Linked DNA regions of Homo sapiens. The protein of the gene in region 1 interacts with the protein of each later gene in a biochemical or structural test. Each region holds a gene or a part of one and is shown in the gene's direction. Other genes may lie near its edges. The genes, in order: DGKK, SHANK2, SIPA1L3, HTRA3, CYTIP, MPP1 and PDLIM4.

Evidence for each region.
Region 2: the proteins of DGKK (region 1) and SHANK2 interact in a test that uses a peptide from one of them, tested with the Homo sapiens proteins (one large-scale study listed by IntAct).
Region 3: the proteins of DGKK (region 1) and SIPA1L3 interact in a test that uses a peptide from one of them, tested with the Homo sapiens proteins (one large-scale study listed by IntAct).
Region 4: the proteins of DGKK (region 1) and HTRA3 interact in a test that uses a peptide from one of them, tested with the Homo sapiens proteins (one large-scale study listed by IntAct).
Region 5: the proteins of DGKK (region 1) and CYTIP interact in a test that uses a peptide from one of them, tested with the Homo sapiens proteins (one large-scale study listed by IntAct).
Region 6: the proteins of DGKK (region 1) and MPP1 interact in a test that uses a peptide from one of them, tested with the Homo sapiens proteins (one large-scale study listed by IntAct).
Region 7: the proteins of DGKK (region 1) and PDLIM4 interact in a test that uses a peptide from one of them, tested with the Homo sapiens proteins (one large-scale study listed by IntAct).

The regions. Positions count from the first base shown.
Region 1 is NC_000023.11:50,460,826-50,464,325, reverse strand, and holds part of DGKK (diacylglycerol kinase kappa), read left to right. Parts: intron 1-3,500. UniProt on the Homo sapiens protein: Diacylglycerol kinase that converts diacylglycerol/DAG into phosphatidic acid/phosphatidate/PA and regulates the respective levels of these two bioactive lipids.
Region 2 is NC_000011.10:70,467,354-70,469,965, reverse strand, and holds the end of SHANK2 (SH3 and multiple ankyrin repeat domains protein 2), read left to right. Parts: 3' UTR 1-2,112; downstream 2,113-2,612. UniProt on the Homo sapiens protein: Seems to be an adapter protein in the postsynaptic density (PSD) of excitatory synapses that interconnects receptors of the postsynaptic membrane including NMDA-type and metabotropic glutamate receptors, and the actin-based cytoskeleton.
Region 3 is NC_000019.10:37,913,708-37,917,207, forward strand, and holds part of SIPA1L3 (signal-induced proliferation-associated 1-like protein 3), read left to right. Parts: intron 1-3,500. UniProt on the Homo sapiens protein: Plays a critical role in epithelial cell morphogenesis, polarity, adhesion and cytoskeletal organization in the lens.
Region 4 is NC_000004.12:8,272,754-8,276,253, forward strand, and holds part of HTRA3 (serine protease HTRA3 isoform 1 precursor), read left to right. Parts: intron 1-3,500. UniProt on the Homo sapiens protein: Serine protease that cleaves beta-casein/CSN2 as well as several extracellular matrix (ECM) proteoglycans such as decorin/DCN, biglycan/BGN and fibronectin/FN1.
Region 5 is NC_000002.12:157,430,590-157,434,089, reverse strand, and holds part of CYTIP (cytohesin-interacting protein), read left to right. Parts: intron 1-3,127; coding exon 3,128-3,230; intron 3,231-3,437; coding exon 3,438-3,500. UniProt on the Homo sapiens protein: By its binding to cytohesin-1 (CYTH1), it modifies activation of ARFs by CYTH1 and its precise function may be to sequester CYTH1 in the cytoplasm.
Region 6 is NC_000023.11:154,795,486-154,798,985, reverse strand, and holds part of MPP1 (55 kDa erythrocyte membrane protein), read left to right. Parts: intron 1-3,500. UniProt on the Homo sapiens protein: Essential regulator of neutrophil polarity. Regulates neutrophil polarization by regulating AKT1 phosphorylation through a mechanism that is independent of PIK3CG activity.
Region 7 is NC_000005.10:132,256,327-132,260,495, forward strand, and holds the start of PDLIM4 (PDZ and LIM domain protein 4), read left to right. Parts: upstream 1-1,369; 5' UTR 1,370-1,408; coding exon 1,409-1,501; intron 1,502-4,169.

The DNA.
Region 1 (3,500 bases):
CCTTATTCTTAAAATACAATTTTTTTTAAGATTTAAAATAAAATTAAGAATGGAAGGGTATATGTGTTGGTGAAGAGGATATTACTAATGAAACAAAAACAGAATCCTCTTAAAGAGAAGAAGTACTTCAATGTCACAAAGACCCATTAATTTTCCTGTCAAAACACAACCAAAAAAAAAAAAACCGATTTTTTTAAAAGAAGAAAAAATGAAAGAAAATCCTTCTAATGGGAGTTGACTCAAATTCACTCAAAAACTTTATTCTTTTTATTTTATTTATTTATTTTTAATTAATTTTTAACTGATGCATAATAGATGTACATATTTTCAGGGAACATGTGATAATTTAATATATTTATATAATTTACCAAAAGATTTATTCTTAATATAGAATTTTTGTAATTTGAGAACAAATAGAAAAGATAGGTAGGGGAGAAACACAAAGCCAAGAAAGTCCTCTTAAACAAAAGTATTCTCAGCCTCAACAAAGCCCCTTTTTTTCTCAAAACAAGCAAATACATTTAGAATTATGGGGGGCGGGAAGGGAAGAACATGAACAGTATATTTTAAAGAGAAATATTTTTCTTAAGGAATGAAGATGCCCCCAAACTCACCAAAGTCCTTGAATATTTTTCTGAAAACAAAAAAGAAACAAAGAGAAGGAGAGAGGGAGAAAGAAGGAAGAGAAGGGAGAAGGAGAGAGAGAAACAGAGAGAGGAAGGGAGGGAGGAGGGGAGAAGGAGAGAGGGAGAAAGAAGGAAGAGAAGGGAGAAGGAGGGAGAGAAACAGAGAGAGGAAGAGAGGGAGGAGGGGAGAAGGGAGGGAGGGGGAAAGCCGGACAGGTAGAGAGGAGAGGAAGGTAGGAGCAGGTAGGGAGAGACTGAGATAGGGAGAGGAAAAAAGAGGGAGAGAGACAGAGGAAGGGAGGGAGCCAGAGAGAGAGACAAAGGGAGAGGTGGAGAGGGAAAAAGAAAGAGGGGGAGAGAAGGGAGGAGAGGGAAAAAGAAAGGGGAGACGGAGGAAAGGAGAGGGAGAGAGGAAGGAGGATGGGGGGAGAAATGTGAAGGGAAGGGGAAAAGGACTAGGTAGGATAGAGTGAAGGTGGCAGAGAAGGAGGGGTGGGAAAGAGGAAGAAGAAAATTAACAAAGGGATTATTTTTTAAAGGATCAAAGAAAGAAATTCTCTCCAGGAAAATGCACCAACACCTTACTGCAGACATTGCGTATTATTCCTGATGACTACCCTCTCCATCCCCCACAATAAGGAAAAAAAAACCACACACACACAAAATCTCTTTCTCAAGCTTCTTCAAGGTGGGGAATGTGCGTGTGGGGGGGGTGGTGGGTATGTACCCAATCTCACCCTATCCCAGGGACCTTATGTATCTTTCAGCCTTCACTGTTTCATTAAAAAAAAAAAAAAAAAAAAAAAAAAAAAAAAAAGCAAGGAAAGGAAAAGAAAATCTTTCCAGGAGAGATGTCTCCCATTCTAATTTTTCCCAATAAACTGTTTCTTTTAAAGAAAAGGAAAGAAAGAAAAATCCTACTAGGGAGGGCTCCCCAGCTTCATTAAAACAAGTTGCCCTTGTAGGTCCTCTCCACAAAACCTATTTTTTAATGGAAATCCTCCAGACCTAAAGAGAGATGCTCCCCCACCTCCACCAAAAGCAATGAATCTTTTCCCCTGGAGATTTTTAAAGAAAAAAATCTTCCATTGTAAGAGGAGATACCTTCAACTTTACTAAAATCAATGGACTTTATTCCTCTCCACATCCAAGAGGAGAAAAAAAATATTTGAGGAAAAGGGAAGAAATCCTCCTAATCTAAGGCAAGTTGGCTATAATCCCTCCAACACCATTGAACTTTCTTCCTGAGATTTTTTAAAAGAAAAAGCAAAGACAGAAAAAAAGCCTCAAAAAAAAAAAAAAAAAAAAAGCACTCACTTCTCCCACAGGCTCCACAGATCTGAAGTGTTGTACAAAGAAAAGGTACTATCCCTCTCAAATGGCACCAGTGAACTTTACATTCAGCACTAAGGCTAAAGGATGATACATTTTAATCCCAGGCTGGCTTCCCGCTGCCCCAGTCTATTTCTGGTTACCTTCCCCATCATCCAGGTAGGCAACACTCCCAAGAAAGGCACTGTCCAAAAGAAAAAGAATTAGGAGGCAAACCTTCTGGGGAAAAATCATACCTCTTTTCCAAACCGAACAAATGATTTGGGAATTCGCTGCGTCATTGTTCCCATCTAACACTACAGAGAATTAAGAGTTGATGATAAACTCAAAAGCAGTGACACTCTTGCTATTAACTACCAATTAGTCAGACACCCCTACCTAACAGGGAAGGACCCTTCGCCAACTCAGTAATGGAGGTGATCCATCCTCCATTATGTTTCATTATGTGCTGGCTTTGATGTCTGTTCCTGCAGGGCGATAAAAGGGCTTGATTTTCACAAATCCATAAAATTTGCAAATCATATTTATAAGCAGAGAGACTCAATTAATGTTTTCCAAATTTTAAAATTCATTTATTTCTTTAAAACGTAAACTGATACCTGCTCCCTATGTGCTATGTGTTTAACATTGTGCTAACCACTGAGGATTCTACAGTGAACAAAACCACATGGATGAGACTACCTTTAAGCAAAACTGGTAAATGAGAGACTCAATTACCAAAACAAATATGCAGATGGTGGTTATTTGTTTTACCAGATGCTTTGCCAAGGTATTCACTATTAATAGTCAGTTCTCTCAGCATTCCTCTACTTAAACTAAAATTCAATGTAATAAAATAAAGGAATGCATGCTAATTTCAGAGAATGTGGAAAATCAAGAAAGCTTCTAAAAAGTAAATAAAAATCATCTAGTACCCCACCACTCAGAGATAATCACTGTTAATATTTTGCTATATTTTTCATTTATTTTCTCTGAATATTTGCTTATAGTCTTCTGTAGTAAGACTTTGGGGAATGCACAATTGTGTCTCGGGCTTCACCCTGCCCCAGTCACAGCCCCACACGCTTAATTATTAGATCGTGTTCATTATTCTACCTTGGATTTAGGAAACACTTGTTCATTTTAGCTTAAAGTTCATCTAGTCAAACTCCTGTCTGATCTGATTGTTAAACATATGCTTGAATCACAACCATTCAGGGGCATATTTGCTGTGTGAAGCAGTAAGTATATAGATTTTATGTAGACACAATTGTTGCAGTTGCTCCCATATACAAATGCAGTTTGATCTCACATTTACTTACTGCACTTTTTTGGACACTTAGATTTTATTTGTCCAGTTAGCTTTTGTGACTTGGCCTTGGAGAAGGAGATCCAGAACAAAACCAACCTTATCTTCCCACTGTTAAATTCCCAAAGGGAAAAAATCTAAATTTCTGAGTCACTTTTAACTATATGCCAAAAAAAAAAAAAATTAGTGATGGCTTTGTCTCTTTAACAAGAAGTTACAGCATTATGCTAAACTGGGTATGCCATACCCAGAAG
Region 2 (2,612 bases), on another chromosome or scaffold:
CATTTACATGCCTAGTTTCTGTAATATTGTGTATACAAAACCCAAATCTCTCAAAATGTAAATTATGTATACCTGCCAAGATACCTTTTCCAGGGTGTCTGCGCACATTTTAAGTTAATTCACATAATATAAAAATTACTCAATGTGACTGTTGATTTGCTGAACTTTACATATCACAAAGTGAATTATTTGTGATACTTTAGTTAATAAAATGGTAAATTTTTTTCTCAGTTATTGAACAAGCAAGCATTATCCAGTTGATCTGGCAATGACTTTTTGTGTGTGGGCCACAATATTGATTTTCCCATTAACAATTTTTTTTTGTTTTTTAAATACTAATATGTTTCACACTATAGTTTGTGTAACAACACGTGTTCGCATTATCTATGTTGCTGTTACTTTTGTGCTTTTATTCTTTTTAGACTTTATAAAAAAAAAAAAAAGCTCCTGTAATTTGCACTTTCTCCCAATCCTTAAATCTCTTGTATGGCAACCAAAATTACTGTAAAAAAATAAATATACTATTGCACTAAGGTTGTGGTTCTGATTGCAAACAAACAGTGAACACTGTCTGAATTAAACAAAAAGCTGCCCGACTTGCAATCTAATGTAGATTATCTCAGGCATTGTGGCCAGCTCTGCCTCTCTAAAACTGACCAGAAAAATCTCTCTCATCGAGTAAACAGGCTCCTGTCACTGAGCTAATCTGCCTTGGTTCCATTTCCTTATTCTCAATTTATCAATGGATACGTGCATGTTATTTCAGAATTATGCAAAACGTCAAAATCTGCTTCTGTGACCGCTGCTATAGGCGTGGAGCTGAGGCTCGGCTTTTCCTTTTGTTCTGGGTGGAAGCAGCGGTGCCGCGGAGGGCCAGCCAGATCCGGACCCTTCCCTTAGGGTCCAGTCTCCCCACACCCCAGCAGGGTGTCTTCTAGCCATAAGGCCAAGGGAGTGGCAGAACTGGGCCGCCTCTCTGGTTGACAAGCAAACCACATGCTAAGGCTTGGAGCAAGAGAGAATTTGTGTCTATTGGCAAAGAACTAAGCCAGGAAGACATGGGCCATCCCTCCGCTTTAGGGAAGCATATTTTAAACCTAAACGTTGAACTTCTTCTTTGGCCTCACCAGTGAAAACTTGTTGTCTTTAGTTCCTAAAGTTTCTTCTACTTTGGCACATTCCCCAGTTGAGCAGCAGCCTCTATGCTTCCACGTTCAGGAAAAATTCCAGTCCTCATATCTTTTGTAGTTCACCCTCAAGCTCTCCCGCTTCACCATCCAATAGTTTCTCCCAAACCTTGGCACCCCCCTAGACTTTGCTTCCAATGGTTTCTTCCAGACCACTTTTCCTAGATGAATATATTCGTTTACCTTACTAGGAAAATTATTGGAAGATTTTTTCTTTTACTTGAAATTGGAGGCATTTTAATAACTGGCGAACTGGAATGTGTTTCTGTATTTGTAGACAACCATGAACCCATGCAAGTAGGTGAACATTCCACAGTGGCTGGGTGACCACAGCAGCTGCATGCAGACAGGACTGCCCGTGCTTTGTGGGGAATCAGAGAATTTCCAAACTTGTTTCTCAGACTTCCGCAGATCTCATCACTTTGATTTCTAATCCATGCTGTATTGGTGATTTTGTTTATCGTTCCTGTAACTTGTTCTACATTCCACAGTCTTTACCGTTTTATGTTCAAAATTACAACAATCCCTGTCCATTGATTCCACTCTGGAACTCTTTGTTCATGCCAATTTTGAAATTTTAATACGAGCCTTCAAATAAACACAGAAAAGAAAAAAAAAAAGGAAAAAAAATAAAGTGTGTGCCTTGGGTGTTTTGAACCTGATCTGCATAAAACCATATTGTATTCAAATGCTGTATCTTTCATGAAAGGATAAATATATCTTCAATGTATTAATGTAGCTGATAAAATAGTTATAGTGCCTTGTTTTCTGAACTGAGAAGCCCATATCAATGCACAACGTAAAGAAAGGACGGTTCGAGCTATGAAATGTTGAGGACACCTACACGTGATTCTGGAGCCTTTCTCATCATAAGACTGTGGAAAATACACAGTCGTTTAAGTTAAAAATAAAAAGTAAATTGAAATAAGATTGTGTTATCAATTAATTTTCCATTAAAAGTGCTCTCTACTGTATCATTTTCAGTATTTTCATTTAATTAAAATACAAAATGTGTTTGAGGATTTTCATGGAAAGGAGAAAAGTTTAACCACAGGAGCCCTGGGCTCTCTGACCTACTCCCCTTGTGCTGTGCCGCCCCCCGGTGGTACTCATTGGTAATGCTTAACGAAGCCATCAATATCAATCATTTCGACGTTTTGTTATAAATATACACAAATTCATTTTTAGTGATTGAGGCCACTCATTGCAGGAAAACTGTTTCCATTTTTCACAAGTGAAAGTGGCAACATGTGTGTTTTTCTTTCGACAAAAAAACGATGTGAGAAGTACATCAGTGTAATTCTTGTCTCAATGCTGTCATGCTCCATTTGCTTTAAGTGCGAAGCTTCCCTGAGCAGCCTCTGCCTTTCTAGAGGATGAGCCTGCGGTGTAGTGAGCATATTAGGGCTGCCATCTGCCTGTGGG
Region 3 (3,500 bases), on another chromosome or scaffold:
TTTTTTTTTTTAATTAAAAAAAATCCTGGCTGGGCACAGCGGCTCACGCCTGTGATCACAGCACTTTGGGAGGCTGAGGCGGGCAGATCACGAGGTCAGGAGATCGAGACCATCCTGGCTAACAAGGTGAAACCCCGTCTCTACTAAAAATACAAAAATTAGCCAGGTGTGGTGACAGGCGCCTGTAGTCCCAGTTACTCGGGAGGCTGAGGCAGGAGAATCACGTGAACCTAGGAGGCAGGAGGAGGCGGAGTTTACAGTGAGCCTAGATTGCACCACTGCACTCCAGCCTGGGCGGCAGAGTGAGAGGCCGTCTCAAAAAAAAAAAAAAAAAAAAAATCCTGATCCTGCCTCTTCAGATAGTTTTAACTGTGATGGAGAAAATTTAACAGGGTAAGTGGAGAGCAAATGGCTGATGGGGCAAGATGGCGGTGGTTACCTTAGCTTTGATGGTCAGGGAAGGCCTCCCAGGCCTCTTTGAGGAGTCATGTGAACTGATACCTTAATGAGCAGTGGCACTGGCTATGCCGAAAGTTGAAGAAAGAACATTCCAGGTAGAGGGAACAGCAAGTGTTAAGGCCCGGAGGTGGGAGTGAGTTTGCTACAAAGAGTATCAGTTTGACTGGAGAAGAGTTAATTCCTAGTTTTCAAGTTGATACTACTTTAATTTTTTTTTTTTTTGTGGCAGGGTCTGCTCTGTCGCCCAGGCTGGAGTGCAGTGGCATGATCTCAGCTCATTGCAACCTCTGCTTCCTGGGCTCAAGTGATCCTCCTGCCTCAGCCTCCCAAGGAGCTGGGATTACAGGAATGTGCCACCACACCTGGCTAATTTTTTTTTGGTACTTTTAATAGAGGAGACAGGTTACACCATGTTGGCCAGGGTGGTCTCAAACGCCTGACCTCAGGTGATCTGCCTGCTTCAGCCTCCCAAAGTGCTGGGATTACAGGTGTGAGCCACTGCAGCCGGCCACATTTTTTCTATTTTTTGTAGAGACCTGTTTTGCCCAGGCTGATCTTGAACTTCTGGGCTCAGGTGATCCTCCACCCTCAGTCTTCCAAAGTGCTAAGATTACAGGCACGAGCCACCATACCTGGCCTACTTTTTTATAAAATAATAATAATGATAGCAGCTTACCTGGTGCTTACTCTGTGCTAGATGCTTTTCTAAGCATTTCACACATTCCTCAGTTAATCCTGACAGTAGTCCAGTGAAGTAATTAACTTGATCAAACTCATTTTACAGATGAGGAAACTGATTCCACCCTCCATGCTCTTCACCTGCATTCTAAACTCTTCCAGGGCCCTCCTTACCAGGCAGAGGCAAATTGAGGAAGTGGACACAGCATTTCCTTTCCTTGTTGTTTGACATGCAAAGCACTTTAGACTATATTTAGTACCTAATTGATGTGGCAGCAGGGGCCGCCTGGGATGTTGTGGCATCATTTTTGCTCTCAATGAGACACGATAGGGATGGTTTGGTGGTGGTTTCAAAACTAAAGACCCTCCAGCAGAGCCTGTCAAGTAAAACAAGGTTGACTGCTTGGTTGCCATACCAGGCACAGGTTAGCATGAAACAAAGTGTAGTGTCCAAGGAGAGGGAGCAGGGTGTCTCCTTTGGGTGAGCTTTGCAAGGGGACTTGGGACTTGGCTGGAAAAGGTGTTTTTTTTTGTTTGTTTGTTTTTGTTTTTTTTGAGTCAGAGGCTCGCTCTGTTGCCCACGCTGGAGTGCAGTGGTGTGATCTGGGCTCACTGCAACCTCCGCTTCCTGGGTTCAAGCGATTCTCCTGCCTCAGCCTCCTGAGTACCTGGAGTTACAGGCGCCCACCGCCACTCCCAGCTAATTTTTGTATTTTTAGTAGAGATGGGGTTTCACCATCTTGGCCAGGCTGGTCTCCAACTCCTCACCTCAAGTGATCCGACGGCCTCAGCCTCCCAAAGTGTTGAGATTACAGATGTGAGCCATGCACCCAGCTGGAAATGGTGTTTTAAGCACACTAGCCATGTGGGCTGTTAAAGTATCATACTATAGCCCATCAACTAAGACAATGATTCTTGGACCTGTAAGGGCCCCAGGTCCCTGCTCCGGCATCATGACCTGTGTGCACTTTGATTTGCTGTAGCGTGGGCGTATTTTGAATGAAGGGTAGCCCTGGTTAGATGTGAGGACAGTAGTGGGTGCTTTTAAGACTAAAAATATTGGGTGGGCATGGTGGCTCAGGCTTGTAATCCCAGCACTTTGGGAGGCCGAGGTGGGAGGATTACTTCAGACCAGAAGTTCAAGACCAGTCTGGGCAACATAGACCCCAACTCTGCAAAAAAAAAAAAAGTTTTTGTTTTTGAGACAGTTCTCACTCTGTTGCCCAGGCTGGAGTATAGTGGTATGATCACAGCTCACTGCAACCTCTGCCTCCTGGGTTCAAATGACTGTCCTGCCTTAGCCTCCACAGTAGCTGGGATTACAGGCGCCCACCACCACACCCGGCTAATTTTTATATTTTTAGTAGAGATGGGGTTTTACCATGTTGGCCAGGCTGGTCTCAAACTCCTGACCTCAGGTGGTCTTCCCGCCTCAGCCTCCCAAAGTGCTGGGATTACAGACGTGAGCCACCGCATCTGACCTCATCTCTGCAAAAAATTTTTAAATTAGCCAGGCTTGGTGATGTGCACCTATAATCCCAGCTACTCAGGAGGCTGAGGTGAGAGGATCACTTGAGCCCAGGCACTACCACACCTTGAGCCCAGGAGATCAAGGATACAGTGAGCTATGATCACACCACTCTGTGTCTAAAAAAAAAAAAAAAAAAAAAAGACTGAAAGTATGGAGAGCATCTTTCATCTGTCCATCTGTGAAACATTTCTTCACCTACCCTGTGTGTCAGGGTCCATGCTTGACACTGACAGTATAAAGTTGAATAAGACACTGGTTCTCAAAAGCCCACAACAGTGCTGTCTGTTAGAAATATAACGTGGGGCCGAGCGCGGTGACTCATGCCTGTAATCCCAGCACTTTGGGAGGCTGACGCGGGTGGATCACTTGAGTTCAGGAGTTCGAGACCAGCCTAGCCAACATGGTGAAATCCCATCTCTACTTAAAATACAAAAATTAGCTGAGTCTGGTGGCATGTGCCTGTAATCCCAACTACTCGGGAGACGGAGGCAGAGAATCACTTGAACCCTGGAGGTGACAGTTGCAGTGAGCCAAGATTGCACCACTGCACTCCAGCCTGGGCAACAGAGTGAGACTCCTTCTCAAAAAAAAAAAAATGTGGGTCACTGATGAGGCTCATATAGGTAATTAAAAATTTTCTAGTAGCCATATTTTGAAAAGTAAAAGGAAGCAGGAAAGTAATTTTAATGATATATTTTATTTCATCTAAAACATCATTTCAACATGTAATCAATATAGAAATTATTAGTGAGCTATTTTACTTCCTTTTTTCCACATTAAGCGTTTGACATACAATATGTATTTTACACTTTCAGCGTATCTCAGTTGGTAC
Region 4 (3,500 bases), on another chromosome or scaffold:
CAGAGACCTGCACAGGACCCGAGAGCCCTGTCGCCACCAGAGCCCACGGAGCCAGGTGGGGAAATGGGGCCTGGTGGGGAGGGGAGGCAGAGAGTGCAGGTGGGAGGCTGCTGGCCATCTCCAGGGCGCCGTTCACACTGTGGGCGGTGTGCAGCCCTGCCACTGTAGCCCGGTGCACGGGGACCTTGGACAGCCAGCTTTCGGCAGGGCGACACGCAGAGTCCACTCCCTGTGGAGGCCTTGGGTGCCCGGCCTCTCCCCAGCCCTGTCTCATTTCCCACGGCAAGCCTGGTCCTTTCCCAGGCACCACAGATGTGCTGCTGGAGGCCAGGAAGGGTGAGGGACTGCTCTGAGGTCACATGGTCAGGAAGTGACCCGGCTGGGCCTGGCCTGGGTCTGGCTGGCTTTGCAGGCTATGCTCTGTGGGCCTCCTGGCTTTTCCTCTGCAAGGGGTGGCAGGGCCCCTGAGGCTGGGAGTCGGGTCAGGCCTGGGCCCCCGGCTCCATCAGGCTCAGCCTCCATGGAGTATTCCAGCAGCGTAGCCGGCTTCTGCCCTCCCGAGGTCCCAGCCAGAAGTTGCTGGGTGCCGGTCACACTTAGTGGTGTGCCAGGCGCTGCCGGGCATTTCTGGGAGGAAGTCCTGCCTGATGAGGGCAGCCTCCTGTGGGCTGAGGTTCCTTGTGCTCTCCTCTCCCCTCCCCATGTCAGCTCCTCCGCCTTCTCCCACCCTCTAGGCAGGAAGGTCTCCTTGGTCCCTTCTCGCCACCCTCCCCCCCGCACCCCCGCCCCAGTAAGCTCATCTGCCATGAAGTCCTCCCCAGGTGCTGGGACTTCGGGCCCTATCTCCAGCCCCCGGGTCTCTCCTGAGTTAGAGTCACGTGGAGATGCCTGCTGAGCCGCCTCGGGCTCTACTCTTCCCAGCCCCACTGAAAGGAGCACCACGATGTTCAGTGGGGAGCCTCGATCCCCTCCGTCCCTCCGCCCCTCATTCCCCTCTTCCCCTCACTCCCCTCAATGCCTGCTGCACTGTCACAGTGGCTCATCAGTTTGGGACTTGGTGTGGGGGTACCTTTCCTGGGCCTGCCCATTGCAGCCCAGCTGTGTGGATGGGGGCCCTTACTCCTCTCCACCCCTCATTCCTCTCTGCCTCTCACTCCCCTCCACCCCTCATTCTCCTGTGCACCGGGAGTCCCCTCAGCTCATCCACAAAACATCTCCTGGGGCGCTCTGACTTCCCCCTCCATCCTCCCTTCCATCACTTCTCACACAGCAGCCAGGATCACCTTGGTCAATCTGTCCTGCCCATGACCTGCAGGCTTCCTTGCAAGGCACCCCAGCACTTACCTTGACTCACAGGGCCCTGTGCCTGCCACCTGGCCCGCATCACCCTCGGTGCCGTCTCCCACTGTCCCCTCATCCCCTGTGCTCTGGCCTCATGGCCTCACCGGTCTCTTTCCCACCTCGAGGCCTTTGCACGCAATGTGCCCACTGCCCGGCGTTTCCTTCCCTTGCCTTAGCGTGGTGGGTTCCTCATCCTGCCTTCACCCGGATGTCCCACCGCCCCTGAGCCACCTGCCCTGGCCACTGTGCCCAGGTCATCCTTCATTGCTTGGTGAGCACACCCAGGGTCTCCGGTGGGCCCTGCACACAGATGTGACTGTGGGTCAATTTCTCTGCGTGATCCCCATCTCCTCCAGGCTCGAAGCCTCGCCGGGCAGGGGCCTGGGCCAGTGCGTGGCCTCTGTAGATGACACGAAATGAGACGAGGGCCCATGTGATGTGTGAATCTCCTCTAACCCTCTGGGCCCTTCTTGCATCCCTCCAGTGACAGAGGCTCACCACTTCTCAGGGGAACCCTCGCATCTTCTCAGGTCCATGTTAAGGCATCGCAGTTGCACAGAGTGGATAAATGTCCATCCACGGGATGGTAAAAGCAGGGATAAATGCGTTTCTGAGGGCCTGTGTGGAGAAGGGTTTCCCTTTGCGCGTAACCAGAGCTCTGAGGCCATGCAGCCTCTCCTCTGGCTGCAGATAAACAGGCCTTGGAGCCTGCCATGCGCTCAGAATGTAGAGCCCCAGAGCAGTTTACAAGGTGGCATTTAATCACCGGCTTTTATTGTGCAACCCCAAGCAGGTTCTGATGGCATCTCCCGGTTGTATTTATTGAAGAACTTGGGTTGGCTTTTGATTTGTAATCCTCTTAGCAGCTTCCTGGGGCTGCACATGCCTTGGAGTTCAGCATCTGGGACCACTCAGGCAAGATGACGCCTCCCCTCCTGCCCCGCCCACTCCCGCTGGGGCTGCAGTGCTGAGCCACAGCATCTGGCGGCACTGGAGGACTTGGAACTGCCGGCAGAGCTGCTTGGCCAAGAGCTTTCGCCAAGGCTGCCAGGAGCCAGGAGTCCAGCCGGACTGGAGCTGAGACCAGGGCGCTGTGCAGCTGCCCTTCCTGCCGGGGCTTGGCCTAGCAAATGCACCCTCACCCCATCTGCCATCCTGTGGTCTTCCCCCGACAGGCCTCTGCCCTCCCATGCAGCCCCACACAGCAGCCTGAAGGGACTTGGCGAGACCCGGACCCTCCCTGCCGAAAGCTGGGCCATGGCTCCCACGGCCTCAGGACTAAGCATAGCCTCCTGGCAGGCTCGCAGGCTTGGTGACCCCAACCACTGCCTCCTGCCCACATCACCACAGCCGCAGACCCCTGTGAAACCCCCATCCTGCATTGTGAGGGACCAATGACAATGCATGGAGCCCAGAAGAGGAAGAAACCACCTTCAGAGTGGAGAGAGGGCTAGATCAGGAGGGCTTTCTGGAGATGGGGGCGTCTAGTTGTGGAGAGGTGGGTACAAGGGGGCCTGTGCACCCTTGGCCTCCCACAGGCTCACCAGGGCCTGCCAGGTGGTCTGAACACCTTCCGCCCAGGCTTGCTTTGAGGGAGGGAGGCCACCAGGTTTCACAAGGGTGAACGGTGTGACACTGGGCACTGTTCCAGGCCCACAAAGCCTTCAACACATCATTGGGGTATTGATGTCCTGGTCCTGTATGAGAAAGGGTTCAGGGAGCTGTAGGAAGCTGCCCTCGGTCACTCAGGTAGGGATGGATGGTTCTGCCCTGAGCCCAGGTCCCCTGGTTCCCCAGCCAGTGCTCTGAATACCAGGCAGGCCCCTAGCAGCTCGAAGTGTCTGCCTTGTTTGGTTTTGATGAGGGTGTTTGTGGACTAATGGGTGGGACAGGGTTTAAAATCATAGACCGCTGTCCTTGGTGCAGCAAAGATATGGCGAGGACACGTCCATATGTTCCCCAAGCTGAAAGCCAGGTCTAGTGCAGGGGTAGCAGGTGACTCCCTGGAATTGTGCAATGTACAGCCTGCCCACCTGTGTGCATTACCCTGCTCCAGCACATAATGGGCAGAGCACCAGGACTGGGACCCAGTTCTGTCCCTCATGTCTGGCTGCTCAGGGTGGAGTCCCAGCTCTGCCCCAGAAGTCTCTGAAGCTCTT
Region 5 (3,500 bases), on another chromosome or scaffold:
CAGCTAGGTCTTAGATAAGAGAGTGAAATACATTTTACAGATGTGTACTTGATATATTTGCATGTGTTTTGTATAATCATATTGTTATACTGTGTATCAGATTTTAAGTATTTACTTTGGCATTCAAGAGACACTCGAAAGACTATACATCTGTGTATATAGAATGCATATATTCATGGATAGCTCCTGGTATGTTTTGCAACTAGAGTTCATATTGTACATAATGAGCAATTTGTAGCTTTTTTTCCTAATGACAATGCTTTATAATTGTTATTTGAAACACTTGAGAACATTTGGCTCTACTTGCAGATTGCCTCATGCTGTAGGAAATTTTTAAGTCTTTATAAGTTTCAGCATAATTGCCTAAGAATTTCATTGCTTATTAGCTGTCTGCTTTTTCATGAGCACATTTGTAAAATGGGTGAGGTAGGTCAAATGAAGTCTAACCCAATTAAGTGCAACAGTAGTAGCTTAAGCATTTCTGTTTTTTTTTTCCATAGTACGTTTGCATGTCTTTTGGATGTGTTTTGCATAATCATATTCTTACACTCTATATCAGATTTTAGATCTTAGCTTTACTGCTGCTTTCAGAAAACTCTGGTGTGATATCAGCCCCACAATTGGAAAGTCAGTGTTTATTTTAAGATTAGGAACAGGAAACTGCTAAGAAAAACATGTTTTATGAGTAAAGAAACAAAATGGAACTTTAGCTGCAATGAAGACAGAGAAGGCACTTTGAAAAGAGGATCACTTCTACTTTCCTAACTCCTGTACTTTTAAATTTGGAGGAATCTGTAATTCACCACAGTAACTGGTGAAATCTATAGGTTTTAGAAGCATAGTGCTCCCTCTTACTCCCCGGTCATATGAACTACTCCCTATTCTGTTGTAGAGACACTGCTTTTTGTCACTGCTTCTTTTTAAAGGAAAATTATCCTCAAGGATGTGCAGCAGTGGCTACTGAAAACTGGATAAACGACTACTCACCTTTCTTTATTTTTCTTATACTGCCATAATAATGTCACTACTTTCTTAAGTTTTTCTCCCATACCATAAACACTTATTCTCCGTGGAGCAAGAGTCAAAACTATGTCAGGCCACAACACCACTGAACTTTTGTAGATCAACATGAACTAATGGCACCTCTAAATGGCAGCATGTAGGTGTTATCTCAGTGATGCAGGAACCCACACTCCTGTAAATTCCCTCTGGTATATGCTCTCCATTGTCAAATACACACCATAATCTATTCCCTAGTACTCATCAGATTTGCAGCAGTTAACAAATAGGAGACATGCTTCTGGGAACTTTTTGAAAATCAGATAGAACCTCATGTACCCATATTGTGCATGCAGTGTGAGTACATGTTTGGGATGTGGCCTACTAGAGGAATGACACTTTGGAAGAGACCAGATCCATGGTTCTCCATGGGAGCTAGTTTTATGCTGCTTATCAGAATCGTGCAGCCCAATAGGAATGCAGACTTTGGACTCATGCACACCTGAATTCATATCCTCCTAATGCCTTATGGGGTCCTTAGGAGTTTTAAATGAAATAATACATGCAATGTACCTAGTGATGTGCCTTACCAATAGAAGATCCACAAATGACAGGTGTTAGAATGAATGTCACTGGGCATGAGAAAGGACAATGAGATCTTTGTGTCTCTAAGAAATGCAGGTGATCATTGTGTCACTGATCCCTTAATGGGAGCTAGAAGACTGGGTAAGAGAAAAAAGCATCCAATTAATACTTTCTGTAGCTTTGGGGTTTCTGTTTTTTTCTATTTCTAACTACCATATTTTACACCCAATGTGAACATATATGGAGGTGCCAGCTACATAAATCAACATGTTTCTACTGCACTGTACTTACTTTGATCTCTGGGAATGGAGGGTAGAGTCTCACTGCTAATGAGAATTGTTAGAACAGTGGTTTCCCAAAGGAGTGTCAGTTGTATATTTTATTCATGTACCACATGAACTAGATCAGTCTTTCATCTCCAGAAGGGTCTAGGCTATACTGAGAAGACCCCTGGCAGGAAAGCTGTCAATGAAGTTTCTGACATAGATGGGAACATAGTGCATGATCTTTTAAAGTCCCTTCTACCTTTAAGATATGGGGATTCTAAGTGCCTTATAGATTAGATAGAAGTCCTTTAGAGGTGAACAGACCCAAGTTTCTAGAAGTTGCTTGCATGTGGCTGACTTGTGATGCCTCAGGGATTATTGAATAAGAAAGAATGAACATCAGACATCAATTTTTTCACAAGGAAGTACTACTTTAATGTAGCTTAATTTTAGGAATCAGATGTTTAAAAGACGTACTCTACTCAGAACACTGATTTTGCTTCTAAGTGGAACTAGACTTCATAATTTAAATGTGTGAAAAAAAGAAAATTATATTTGTTATAGGTCATTGGGACACTATATCTAGCAAACATTTATTCAGTGTTTTGGTATAATTAAAAATAAAAAAACCCACCACCACCAAACTACTTGTGCCTAATTGAGGCAAGAGTTGAAGCTTAACTTTTTCTAATTTAGTTGGGTGACTAATGAACCGGTGAGGATTCAGGACAGGCATACCAGAGGGTGCTCAGAAATGAAGGTAATTGAGTCAATTATAGTACTTTTGAATAAATGCAGGGCAGATTGTCATTATGTGCAGAACTCTGATTTAAAATAATCATTGTTGGCATGTCTCCTTGCTGCATGTGTACAATTTCATACTCCTATAATGAGTGTTTTAGCTTGGGAGAACCACTTAGGGATTTTTCTCATTGCACTTGGCCATCGTTGTTTTATCCCATTGGGAAATGAGAAACTCAATTTTTAAAAATAAATCGTGATAGCATCAGGTGATATCTTGGGCTTGAAAATATAAAATCTTGAGCCACTCTCATTTCACTTTCTTTCTCATGACAGATGTCTTTATGAATGGAGTTGGCTACAGATTGTCTGGTAGAATTGCAAAATTGATACCTTGATTTAGTTTATAGTGGAAATCCTTTGTCCTTTGAACTTACCTATTATACTGCTTAATGATAATTGACATCATTTTAAATTTTGGCAAATAGATGTTGAGGTTGTTAAATAGTAACTATATATCATCTTAATTTTTACAGTCTTACAGGCCCCAGAATCAGAATGCCTGCTCCTCGGAAATGTTCACTTTGATATGCAAAATACAGGAGGACAGCCCAGCTCACTGTGCTGGCCTGCAAGCTGGTAACTTAAATTTTTGCTCATGTTAGGAATCATTTAAATGGAAAGAAAATAAAATGTTTTGAGAGTGAAGGTCAGGATGTATTTGTTGCTTTGAGTTTTCTTGGCTCCTTTATGTTTTTAAGACTTGGAGCTGCTTGTTTCATTTGCATGTCAGGAGGGATTATTTAACTAACCAACATAACACTCATTTTTCTTGGCATCTCCCAGGTGATGTCCTTGCAAATATCAATGGTGTGAGCACAGAAGGTTTTACCTACAAACAAGTCGTTG
Region 6 (3,500 bases), about 100 Mb from region 1:
GAGGCGGGCGGATCACCTGAGGTTGGGAGTTCAAGACCAGCCTGGCCAATGCGGAGAAACCCCATCTCTACAAAAAATACAAAATTAGCCGGGCGTGGTGGTGCATGCCTGTAATCTCAGCTACTCGGGAGGCTGAGGCAGGAGAATCGCTTGAATCCAGGAGGCGGAAGTTGTGGTGAGCCGAGATCGTGCCATTGCACTCCAGCCTGGGCAATAAGAGTGAAAGTCTGTCTCAAAAAAATAAAATAAATAAAATAAAATAAAATTCCTCTAGCCACCACCACAATGAAGATAGAGAACTGTTCCATCCCCACAAAGGCCTCTCTCCTGCTGTCGCTTTATAGTCACACTTGTCTTCCTCCCTACCCCATCCCCGCAACTCCTTGCAGTCACTACTCTGTTCAATGTCTCTATGATTTTGTCATTTTAGGAATGTTATATAAGTGGAATCATATAGTATGTGATGTTTTGAAATAGATTAGCTTTCTTTCAGTCAGGATAATGCCTTTGAGCTGGATCCCAAGTTGTTTTAGTATCAATAGTGTTTTTTGTTTTAATTGCTGAGAAGTGTTCCATGGTATGGATGTACCACGCTTTAACTGTTCACCTGTATTTTGGTTCTTTATAGATTTTGGCTGTTATAAATAAAGCTGTTATGAGCATTCATGTACAGGCTTTTGAGTGAACATAAATTTCCATTTCTCTAGGTGAATATCCAGGAGTGTCATCCCTGGGTTTTATGGTAGTTGTGTGTTTGGTTTTTTAATAAAGTGTTCAACTATTTTCTATGGAAGCCATATCACTTACATTCCCACCAGCAATGTATGAGATGCCCAATTTTCCCTCAGCTTCACCAGTTATGAGTATTGTCACTATTTTTTTATTTCAGCTATTCTGATAGATGTGTAGTGATATATCATTGTTGTTTTAATTTGCATTTCTCCCTGATGGCTAATGATGTTGAATATCTTTTTATATCCTCATTTGCCATCTTTATATATCCTCTTTGGTGAAATATCTGTTCATGTTTTTTGCCCATTTTCTAATTAGATTGTTCGTTTTTACTGTTGAGTATTGAGCACTCTCTTTTTATATTCTATATACCAGTCTTTTATTGGATATGTGGTTTGTAAATGTTTCTCCCGGTCTGTAGCTTGTATTTTCACAATCTTCATGTGGGCTTTCACAGAACAAGAGTTTTTCATTTTGATGAGGTCCAATTTACCAATTTTTCCTTTAATGGATTCTGCTTTTGATGTCATGTATAGGAACTTTTTGCCTAGCTCTAGATCCTGACAAGTTTCTTCTATTTTTTTCAAATATATTTTCTAGTTTTGCACTTTACATGTAAGTCCATATCCATTTTAGAAGGTAAGGTTCAGGTCAGCATTTCCCTTTTTGGTGATGAGTTTCCAATTGCTGCAGCACCATTGAGTTGCTTTTGCATCTTTGTTAAAAATCAACTGGGCATATCTCTGTGGGTCTGTTTCTGGGTTCCCTATCCTGTTCCCTTGATCTGCATGTCTATACCACATAGTCTTTACTGAGACTATACTACAGTAAGTTTTGAAACTGTGCAGACTGAGTCTTCCTACTCTCTTGTTTTTCAAAATTATTTTAGCTTTTCATGGGTCTGTACCTTTCCATCATGTATACGTGCTTTTAGTGTAACCTACATGGACCAAGTGAGTGAAAGCACTCGTGTATGAGAAAAATAACACCCCAGATATAGGGTGATCGGTAGCCAACACTGGCTTCTGGCTGAGGCATCAGTAAGGAATGTGAGAGCTGGGGCCACCTGGAGAGCGATGCCAGATCTTCTGATACTTTAAAAAGAAGTTGGAGTCCCCTGATTTTTACTAAACAAAACAGAGACATGTGGTCGAAATAAAACAGTTTGCAACTTCTGCTTTGGAGATTTTTTCTTTTCTTTTTCCAGAGATAGAGTCTCGCTCTGTTGCCCAGGCTAGAGTACAGTGGTGCTATCATAGCTCACTGCAGCCTTGACCTCCTGGGCTCAAATGATCCTCCTGCCTCAGCCTCACGAGTAGCTAGGACTACAGGCACATGCCACCACACCTGGCTTGGAACTTTATGTAATGCATTCACTCCTTCATTTATTGTCCAACCAATGCAGATCCTACTTCTTGACTCCCCACTTTGTAACAGAACAAGATTACAGGCCTCTTCCTTTCGATTTTTCTCCCCTTTTTACCTGCCAACTTCCTATCATGGACATGTGTACCTTAATATTGTCATGGTGCTGATATTTACAGTCTGTTATTTGTTTCATGATTTGTTTCTAAGTGAGTTCTAAAAAGTAAAAATCAATAAGTGGTTTTTAGATTATTATAACTGGTTGCCAATCCAACATCCCACTTCTCACTTACATATCCCTGATCTTGTTTGGGATGGCAAGATGCTCAACTAAACTAATCTTCCCAGCCTCTTTGGCTGGTGCCTCCTGTATGCACATTCTAGGCTCTAGCTGTCTCAACTCTCCTTGGTCATTCCTCCATCTGCTTTCTGTCTTCTGGAAAGCTATTGAAATCTTGGCCGGGCATGGTGGCTCATGCCTGTAATCCCAGCAGATTTGGGAGGCCGAGGCAGGTGGATCACTTGCGGTCAGGAGTTCCAGACCAGTCTGGCCAACATGGTAAAACCCCGTCTCTACTAAAAATACAAAAATTAGCCAGGTGTGGTGGCGCTTGCCTGTAATCCCAGCTACTCGGGAGGCTGAGGCAGGAGAATCGCTTGAACCCAGGAGGCGGAGGTTGCAGTGAGCCGAGATCACGCCACTGCACTCTAGACTGGGTGACAGAGTGAGACTCTTTCTCAAAAAAAGAAAAAAGAAAAGAAAAGAAAAGGAAAAAAAACAAAGAGAAAGAAATCCTTCAACCCTGATGACTTTTTGTGGGTTTCTATTTCCCTCCTCCCGTTTACTCTTACTTAAACAGGGTCAAGGTTGAGGCAGGACAAGATCCACACAAGTACTTGAACCTGAGTCCCAATCACTTTGGAAAATTCTTTTACTAATTTATTTTATTAAAGTAACACAAGCACATAATACATAATTTAAAAGGTATAACTTGATACACAGTGAAAACAATTTCCTTCTCACCCCATCTTATAGCCACCCAGTTCCTCTCCCTAGAAGCAACCACTGTTTCTTATGTCTCCTTCCAGACATAGTTTATGTATTTTCATTTATTTTATTTTTTGAGACAGGGTCTCACTCTGTCACCCAGGCTAGAGTGCAGTGGTGTAATCACAACTCACTGCAGCCTTGACCTCCCGGGCTCAAGCAATCCTTCTGCCTCAGCTTCCCGAGTAGCTAGGATTACAGGTGCACGCCACCATGCCCGGCTAATTTTTTTATTTTTTGTAGAGACGAGGTTTTACTATGTTGCCTAGGCTGGTCTCGAACCCCTGACCTCAGGTGATCCTCCCACCTCAGCCTCCCAAAGTGCTGGGATTACAGGTGTGAGCCACTGAACCTG
Region 7 (4,169 bases), on another chromosome or scaffold:
GAACAGCCCAATGGCTGGTGCTCTAATGGATTCAGACACCGCACCCCCCCCCACACACACACCCCAAATACACTCCCATATAAACACCGCTACCACACACCACTTGTTTCTCTCCCAGCTGAACAGATAGCAGCATCTTGCCTCCTACAGAGGCACCCACATTCTACTCTGAAGGGCCCCTCCCTTCCTTGGACTGCCCTAGGTTTGTGCTTCTCAAGCAGTTCTCCTCTTTGCGGGTTGTCAGAGACCCAGTGGACACATTTCATCCCACCACCTGTGAGGAGCCCAAGAGCAGGGTCCTTATCACAGCTTGACTAAAAGGACACATAAGGTTAAGGATTTGGGCTAAATGAGAGACCTCCACAGAGTCTGGAAAAGTAAAAGGTGTCTCCCTGATGTAGCCAGATAGAAGTGCCGAGAGAACCAGAGGGAGGTTGGTGGTGCCATGGCATCTGCATTGGCTGTTCAAGTACATCCCCGGAGGATAATGGTTGGGAATGGAGAGAAGACCTTGGAGAGAAAAGGGCCCAAAGTGAAGCGCTGCATATATTTCTTCCCTTTACACTGCACAGCCACGACCCCAGCCGCTCCAGCTGCTACTTTCTCAGGAGACCTGGGGAAACAAATCTCCTGGCAAAGGACGAGGGGAGGGGGCTGTGCAGACAGGGAGGTGGCCTGCGAGGAGCCTGCAAGCAGCAAGAGAAGGCCTGAATGTTCTGGGGAAGCAGGGACACCTTGCTTCCAGATACAAGTCAGGGACCACCTCTTCCAGGAAGCCTTACTGGCCTCCACAAACTAGTCTGAGGACCTTTCTGTGTCCACTCCCACGCTCGGCGCTGCCTGCTGTCGTTTTGGGTCTGCGTCCCCGGCCCAGTGCTGCGCAAGCCCCTGGTTCATAGGGTTCTTGGTTCAGAGGGCTCCTCACACGGCAGGATGGGCCGCAGGTGTGCCAGTCGGGCCCATGAGGAGGTATCTGAGCTGGGGCAGCCCCATCCCCCAAGTGGGCCCTCCATCCCTCCTCGGGCTGGAGCACCGCCCCTAAAAGCGACTTCAAAGGGCCGGTGTCGACAGCTGGGTTTGGGTCCGCGGCCTGCAGATCCAAGGCCCGAGCAGGATCCAGGCCGTCGGGGCCGTCCGAACGCGGGGATCTCTGAGAGCTGAGTGGGGGTGCCGGGTTGCCGGCAGCCGGGGCTGAGGGCGGGTCCTCAGAGCCCCCCGAAGTGGGAGGGTCGGGCTGGCCGCGGGGCCAATCCAGGCGCACAGGGAGCGGGGGCGGGGGCTGGGCCGAGTGGGGACAGGGGCGGGCGGGCCGGGGGCGGGCGCGGCGTCCAGGCGGCGGCGGCGGCTGCGGCGGCGGCGGCTCCTCCTCAGAGTCCGGCTCAGGCTCCGGCTGCGGCTCCAGCCCGCGATGCCCCATTCCGTGACCCTGCGCGGGCCTTCGCCCTGGGGCTTCCGCCTGGTGGGCGGCCGGGACTTCAGCGCGCCCCTCACCATCTCACGGGTGAGTCTGGCGGCTGCGTGGCGGCAGGGCGGTCCCATGTCTGAGACCGGGTTCTCGCGGTCCGCCCGGGACCCAGATCCCCTGTGTATCCGAGGCTTGAAGGCGGAGGGTTGGCCTGGGCGCCCCGCATGCTGTAGAGGCGGCTTCCAGGCAGAGGCAGGCAGCCCCAGCCGCCCTCCTCCCACGCTGGGCCTGTCTGCCCGATCCCGCGAAGAATCTCCCAAGAGTTCACGCACCCGCCTCCCCGCTGGCCTCATCTGGGGGAGCCACTGTGGACCCGGGAAGGACCCGCGGAGATGGGCCAGGGGTCTAGACAGCTCTACAGAGGCCCAGAAACTCTTCAGACTCACCCCCTGCCTGAAGATCTGGGGCAAAATGATTTAGAGCCCCCCTTCCCCTATCAGGGGTCCCTGCCGGCAGAGCTTGGTGACCCAGGGAGGTCTGGGGTCCTCGCTGAATCTGAGAAGACAGAGGTCCATCCACTTCCCACTTTGGGCGTGAGTCAGTCTCTCATTCACGACCTCAGTCACCCTAAGGGGAAGTGACCAGGAGGAATTTTGGCTTCCAGGGGAAAGGGAGACTTAACTGTGAGGTTGTGAGACCCCTCCCCACAAGATGACACAAAGCCGGGGGCCAGGACAGCCTCAGGCCCGTTCCTCAAGTTTCCCAGGGCCCTGCCTTGCCCACAGAGAAGGAAAAGGAGCCGGCACAGCCCTGGAGCGTGGCTAGTCTGAGGATAGAGGAGTGGAGGAGGTGACTCAGGCCCTGTTCGAGGGGGTGCCTGTCTAGGGGAGACAGGATCCTGGCCCAGCCTCGACATCCTCGTGTCTGGAGGGCCAAAAGAGAGGACTCAGACCCTGCCCTTGGGGGTCCCCAGCCTAAGGGACAGAAGAGGAGAGAACCCAGGCCCTGCCCTTGGCGGCTCTCAGTCTGGAAGGAGCAGAGGAGATAACCTGAAACCATCTGACGGCCATCCCTTGCTCCCACACAGGCTGATCTTGTCTTTGGGGGCCTGTGTCAGAGGCACAGAGAAGCACCTTCCCCCACCCTACTGCCACCTCTTGCCATGGGGGCTGGGCCAAGCCGGCTGGGCTTTAAGAGACTTCTGTCCAGTTCTTGGGAGGGGGTGGGCACCAGGTGGAGCGTGGAATCATGGAATCCCGTTTCTGGGGGCCAGGGTGACAGGCAGGCCCAGCTGTCCTAGGAGGCTTCCCACATCTGCCCTCACTGCCAGGTCCCTGGGGCCGAGTGAGGTGGGCCTTCAACACATCCCAGAGCCTTTCATCTCCTCTTTCCTATAGGATTCCTGCTGTGTGTGTGTGTGTGTGTGTGTGTGTGTGTACGCAAGCCTGTGTCTGCTTGTGTGTGTCATGCTGTGTGTCCGCTGAGGGGGCTGGTGGGGACACTAAGCGGGCTGGCCAGGCACCCTGGGCGTGAGGCCGCTGACAGGCTCAGTGGCGGCGGCTGACGGCTGCAGGCGGCAGGGAGCTGAGACATCTGTTGCCCACGCGGCTGCCTGCCCTCCGAGGAAAGGCCTCCACACGTCACAGCTGCGGCTGCGGCAGCAGCAGCAGCAACAGCCTTGTTTGGAGCTGACTGGGGATGCAGGCCCCAGGCAGGCAGTCTGGGAGAAGGTTTGCCAGGAAGAGCCTCCTTTGTCCCCCAAAGTCACGCGGCAGCAGCTCAGGCCCAAGGAGCCAGGATGGCTGAGGTTGGGTTTGGGTGGGATCTGGGGAGATTTACAGCGCTGGGGAGGCACAGGCCACAGCTTGCCTAGCAGGTACCTCTGGGGCAGGTCTACAGGGACTGAAGATATGTGGGAGTGTCTTCACCAGTGGGGCTCAAGATCCAGCCCCTCCCTTGCTTCCAGGACCTCCCCTACGCGGGACCTGGTAGGGAGGGACAGCCTCACACAGACAGGGAGGAGGCTATCGGCCCGGCAGGGCTGGGGGCTTGCAATCTCAGCCCATGAAGCCTCCAGGAGTCCCAAGAACATCATCCGGGGCTCCTTCCCCACAAGCTATAATGATGGCTGGCCTTGGCCAAGCATCCAGGGTGTGCCAGGCCCTACCCTAATGGGTGTTGGTAACAGCTCCCTCCAGTCCCTGTAGTGAGCACCACCTTATTTATGCCCAGCCTCCTGTGGGGGCTTTACATGCCCTGTTTTTCTCAAATAGTCCTTACAACAGCCTTTAGAAGTAAGGACTCCCTCTGGCCTTACATAGATGGAGACCCAGGCACAGAGAGGCTAATGTAATCAACCTAGAGAAGCAGAGTGGAGACAGGAGGAATCCAGGCAGTCTGCAGTTTGCTGTGACTGTGTAGGACAATGTGGCACCTGGTTCTGACTTGGACTCCCAGCCCACCACATCTAGGCTGGGTGGAGCAGGGGCTGGGAATGCAGCCACTACCGGTAAGGGGCTGATTCATGCCCTCACCGCCCACCTGACTTCACTGTTCCTGTCTCTGTTCCTTCTTTCTGTTTATCCTGTGCTTAGGAGCTAGACGGATCGGCCTGAATTCCACTCTGTCCTGTGACTTCCCGCTTAGAGCCCTCCATGGTTCCCAGCCACCCAGGAGAAATGCCAGCTTCCCACCCGGGTGTACAAGACTCTGCAATATCTGATCCCTGCCTCTTCTCTGACTTCATCTCTCCCACTCTCCCCTC